2 separate regions of the Homo sapiens genome follow, and region 1 is linked to region 2. Evidence: fine-mapped expression QTL. A gene starts in region 2. The other region holds a variant in brackets. All regions are shown on one strand. Distances are between the middles of the regions.

The links. PIP is the estimated chance that this variant, and not a neighbour inherited with it, causes the effect.
Region 1: its variant is fine-mapped to the expression of SNURF in whole blood (TOPMed, PIP above 0.99).

What each region holds. Positions count from the first base shown.
Region 1 is chr15:24,989,012-24,991,830 of GRCh38, forward strand. The region is part of intron 15 of SNHG14 (small nucleolar RNA host gene 14); the gene reads left to right. Among named protein-coding and RNA genes, the nearest start is that of SNORD108, 3.5 kb to the left of the region's middle. The variant C/G (reference allele first, on the strand shown) is at 1,168.
Region 2 is chr15:24,953,474-24,956,292 of GRCh38, forward strand. It overlaps SNURF (SNRPN upstream open reading frame), which reads left to right and starts at 1,514. Exons shown (of 3, transcript NM_001394334.1): 1 at 1,514-1,589. The coding sequence starts at 1,576. It overlaps SNRPN (small nuclear ribonucleoprotein polypeptide N), which reads left to right and starts at 1,514. Exons shown (of 10, transcript NM_003097.6): 1 at 1,514-1,589. The region is part of intron 4 of SNHG14 (small nucleolar RNA host gene 14); the gene reads left to right. RefSeq lists enhancers at 1,929-2,494, 2,495-2,819.

The DNA of each region.
Region 1 (2,819 bases), 36 kb after region 2:
CGGTTTATCAGATGCCTTGACTGTACTTTTTACTGCTTTGTCTTCAAGGCCTAGTGTAATAATTAACATCTAGTATGTGTTTGATGGATAGCCAATTTTTGCTTCATTGGTATGTTGTTACCACAGTCATTGGTAGAGTCAATATATGAATGAAGAAAGTATAACAAATTTGCCCTCTAGTAGAGTACAGGCAAAGTATGGCCGTCAGTTTCACCCTGATTTTTTTTCCTCCATTCTTTTTTAGGGTTTAGGTCAAGAACAAGGGCATTTCATTGTACCACATAGCTGAGAGTAGGGAATTGGGACATACTGTCTTGCTTTAAATTAAAGTTGTCTGTTTCATCAAGTAGAGAGGTTCCTAAGATATTGCCAGATTTCTGACTCGGGGTTTGTTAAAAATAGAAAAGGTAGTTCCTTAAGGTTGTATTTTATTGGATGCCTCCACCTGCTTCAGGCTAGCTCACTGGAGAATAAATATTCCAGGTTAAAAAAAAAAAAGCATGTGTTCACGTGAACTTGTCCTTTGAGCAAACCTGTTGGAAATCAAGAGGTCATTGCTGTTGGAGAGGATAAGAGGGTGTACTTGTTGGTGTGTTAAGAGTAGTTCACAACATAAAAATAAATGTAAATGCATCTATTATATTTGGGTTGGCAAAATATATTGGTTATTTACTCTGTTGATTCCTGTAGTGTACATAAATATGATCTACAACTCTGTGAACAAAAAGGCTTGAAAAATTGTTCTGAAAATGGACAAATCATGAACAGATAATTGAACAAGAAAATAAGCAGAAAGTAAATTTGTGAAATATTTCAAACTCATTTACATTCAGAAACATCTTTTTAAGATCACTGTGATACATTCGACTGTCAATTCTGAAGAGACGTATAAAGGAAATGCCAGCTAAGGAGCAAGGAAACAGCTTTCATTCATGGGCTAAATTGCAGCTTAAAAAAGATGGACCAGGATTATTTCCTTTAGAAACTTACTGTACAAAAGATACTGTTCACCCCATTAGAGAACTGATTTGAAGTTACTCTTCCCTGTGAGGGCTCTGTCATCTTAACTGTATTCACATACTTTCAACTGTTCCCCTTGCTGCTAACCTCAGGTTCTTTAGTTCATCTATCTGGCAGAGCTGATTTGGGGAAAACAAGACAAACCTT[C/G]TCAGGTTTTCTTAATAAATAAGCAGTTGTCATGTTTCAAGAGTTTTAGAAATGAGCAATAATCAAGGAAGAGGACAACGATTGCATACGTTTATAATATTTAGAACATCTTTTGCCACAATAAACACTGGAAACCACCCACTTGTGGACACCAAACATTTGGATTTGTATATTTTGTGGCATTCCCTCACTCTAATCCTCTCATCCTTAAAAATTTTCAGAAATTTTTGCAGCAACAAACACTGATTGCAACATATGATTTAGGGTAGATTTATGAACCATTTTTTCACTGAAATACATCAACAGGAGTGAGTAGTCTGAGTGACCACCCCAGCATGGAGAAAACTGTAGTTTACAGATTCTTCTGGAGCATTTTTATTTCTAGATTGCGGTGGAAGTCTAACCCCCCTTGGAGATGTCTGCCTTAAAGGGTCTTTGGCCAGGGTCCTCTGTAGAGCCATAGTCCAGATCTACTCTATTTGTGTGCTCCTTACAACATCAGAACAGCAACTCTCAATCCGGATTCATCCCCAGAATGCCGTCTGAGTCACAGCGTGGCAGGTGCATAAAGAATTATCTACTGAATTGAGAAACATTTCAAATATATAAAACTTGAAATATTTTGGGTAGTCTGTACAAACTCAAGTTGACAAGCCAACCCTGCAGGAATATATGGATAGAAGGGGAAGGATAACATGTTGAATTCAGCTACATGCCTCATCAGCTAGAAAACCTTGGAAGAAAGAAAGATAGATTGATACTTGCCTGAACTTCATCAACCAATAATATTTTTTTTCTTGCTATGGAGAGTCCACTCGCCTTTGGAAGATTTACCAGTAAAAGCCCTGCACATGATATACTTGTGTGCACATGCAATAAGGACATCATTCCCCAACTCCTGCTAGCATTGTGAAAGAGCTCCAAATATTCAAATAATATAAACTTTTTTTCGTGGACATTTAGCTTACGAGTTTGTTTAAATATGTGGGAAAATTATGTTTAGATAATAGTATTGAAATGAGAATGTAAGATACACATTGAATGATAAATGTGTATGAATTGTTCATTGTGCCTTAGGTAAGCCAGACAGTGAAATTAAATGTGTAATAGTTGTATTTTTTTGCATAATCTTGGAATGTAATTAGTTAAAAGCAAACACTTAGATTTTGAACATGAATCTGTTAAGCTTGTTAATGTAGTTGCTGTGGCTAAATAACTGGTTTCCTGGGGAAGCTTCTATTTGCTAGAATTTTATTCTGGAACAGTTGTTAGAAAGGAATTCTCAGGTCACCTTTTAAAGATATACACAATTCTGTATTCACTTTTTGAGTGCATAAGGGTAATAGAAAATGACATGGGAAGCGTTAATTAGAAAAAAAGGCATTTTGTTTATGTGCATTTGAGGATACAGTGTTTGAAGTTTCTAAATAATTGTTTTATGACATTTTCTTGGTACATAGATATTGCTAACAATTAGTTTGCTGAAGTATGTAGAAACATTTTAAGAAATGATTTTAGAAATATAATTGTTAAAGTACCTCTGATGTATATTAAAAATCCTTTTATTTTGGTTTATATTGCTATGGATGTTTTTCTGGGGGAACTTAATGTATACAACTTCTAACTAAGAAGTTTTATTAATGCTGCTTTAT
Region 2 (2,819 bases):
CCATCACGCCCAGCTAATTTTTCTGTTTTTTGTAGAGATGGGTTTCACCATGTTGGCCAGGATGGTCTCGATCTCCTGACCTCGTGATCTGCCCACCTCGGCCTCCCAAAGTGCTGGGAATACAGGCGTAAGCCACTGTGCCCAGCCTACATTTTATTTTTCGATTGACTCCCGTGATCAGAGTCAACTTCCCATGTTATTTTATGTGAATATGTATCAATGAACTATTAGAAATTGCAATGTTTTTGTAGGTCAAAACAATTCAATATTGACAATTTTATATGATTCAGCCTAATACATCATTTTTTCCATCAGCCATATTGCATGTTATTATTTATATATACGTTTATTTAGTTAGCCTATCTGTTCTCTGTGAGGAACATTACACAGTTTCTGAGATTTTGTTACGATAGAAGTCAGCATTGATAAGCCTCTGCGCACCTGTTTTAATGTAGGATCATTGGGAACTGAGCAGTAGCTTACAGGGCTTGGGAGGGGATTTAACCATTTAGTCAACCTCCACTCACATCACCCTCCCTTCTTCGATAATGGGCAATTGAGAAAGGGCAAATGTGTGTAAAAACTATGCAGATGCAGTTTCAGGATTATTTTCTTCTTTTCTGCAGTGTCTTTTCCCAAGCTACATCAGCGTCTAAATTTTGGAGTTACTGATGCTTCCGTTATTTCTGCAGATAGAATATTATGTCGTAAATAATGTTTACTTGTCCATTAGTATTATATAAAAGTGCCTGTTTCTCCCCACTCCAGCTATCATTGATTATTGGTAAAAATTTTAATGTATCCAATTCTAATAGGCAAAGAAAGGCTCTCCTACTTAGATCTTAGGTGGGGGTCTAAGTTCATATTTTTGTTTTACAAAAATTGAATAGCCAGTGTTTTTGAGTTGAATGATCTATCCATTCCGTATAGGAGAGTTTAATTATATTGTGATTTTGGGGGAGATAATTTTCACAATTTACCCCCTCAAAATGTAGAAAGTAGAAAAAGGGTAGAAAAATCGCACCAAATTTGAACAATGTAGCATGCTTTTAGAGTTAGGGATATTTTCTTTTGGAAGGATTTCAAGTCTGGCGTATTTGCATTGATTGTGGTTATGGCGCATTTAACTTTTCCAAACCAGCTTTTTTGTACCGCACATAGGAAGACCTGAGGGTGAGTGTAAATTAGGATTGTTTGGCCAGTGGTGTGTGCAAAAATTTATTGTAGAACCAAGAATTATTTCTTTAGTATTTTACACATTTTAAAAAACAGGTAGACATGTCCATTGATCCCAGGTTGCTTATGGTTTCTAGAGGCCCCCTCTCATTGCAACAGTGCTGTGGGGCCCTAGGGGTCCAGTAGCCCCCTCCCCCCAGGTCATTCCGGTGAGGGAGGGAGCTGGGACCCCTGCACTGCGGCAAACAAGCACGCCTGCGCGGCCGCAGAGGCAGGCTGGCGCGCATGCTCAGGCGGGGATGTGTGCGAAGCCTGCCGCTGCTGCAGCGAGTCTGGCGCAGAGTGGAGCGGCCGCCGGAGATGCCTGACGCATCTGTCTGAGGAGCGGTCAGTGACGCGATGGAGCGGGCAAGGTCAGCTGTGCCGGTGGCTTCTCTCAAGAGACAGCCTGGGGAGCGGCCACTTTTATTCATCAGATATTCCAAGTTTTTAGGACTTGGAGTACTGAATAAACGGAATTTGGGCCCTAAAGTCCTTTGTTCTGGAGAACCAGATCCGGAATGTTCAGAGGCTTGCTGTTGTGCCGTTCTGCCCCGATGGTATCCTGTCCGCTCGCATTGGGGCGCGTCCCCCATCCGCCCCCAACTGTGGTGTCGCGACAGGTCCTATTGCGGGTGTCTGCGGTGGGAAGGGCGGTGGTGACTGGGAGCATGCGGGGTAACCGCAGTGGGCAAGGGACATGGGTGGAGGTGGGTACATCAGGGTGATTGCAGTTCCGTGTGGCGAGGGTACGTGGGGGGACCAGTGCATAGGGATTTTAGGCGGAGGTAGGTATATTGGAGTGATTGTGGCGGGGCGAAGGTACGTGAAGTGATCGGTATTTAGGGGGTGTTGAGCGCAGGTAGGTGTATAATAGTGACCACTGCGTGGTGGAGCAGGGTACGTGGGGCGACTGGGGGGGGAATTCGTCGCAGTGACCGAGGCGAGGAGGCTATGGCAGTGGACCAGGGGGATGAGTCGGTGTGACAGTGGTGGGGGTTGTGTTGGTGGTCGCGGCGCGGGGAGAGTCCGTAGGAAGTGGCTGGGAGGTAGGGGGAAGGCGGCGACAGTGGGTATTGGCGGCGGTGGGCATTGGCAGCGGGTAGGCATGGCGGTGGTGGACTTTGGCGGCGGTAGGCATGGCGGCGGTGGGCATGGCATGGAGGCGGTGGGCATGGCGGCCGCGGGGCCTGTCGCTGTCCGGAGTGACTAAGGGACGCTGAATGATTGCTGTGTAGAGGAGGGGGCATCAGAAGGGGCAGTAGCACAGTCCGCAGCCTTTAATTTTCCTGTGACCTGCGATGGTCATCTGGTTTGCCTACTGTGGTGGTGGTGCTTTTTTATTAAAACTGCGCAATGCCTACACTGCCGCAGGGGCTGCAGAAATGCGTGGAATCCTTGCGTACCCTTTAGGAACCCTCGCTTTAGAGGCTATGGCATAAGAAGACTGGAATGATGTGCAGAACTTGCATTTACAGATCTTTTGACTGATAGGCCAGGTGATGCCTGGGGGTTACTTTTTTTTCATTGTTTCTCTCTGTTGGGAACCAGGTCTTGGAAGGCTATGTCGAAATAACCTGGGGGTCTGTGTTGCGTCACTGCCA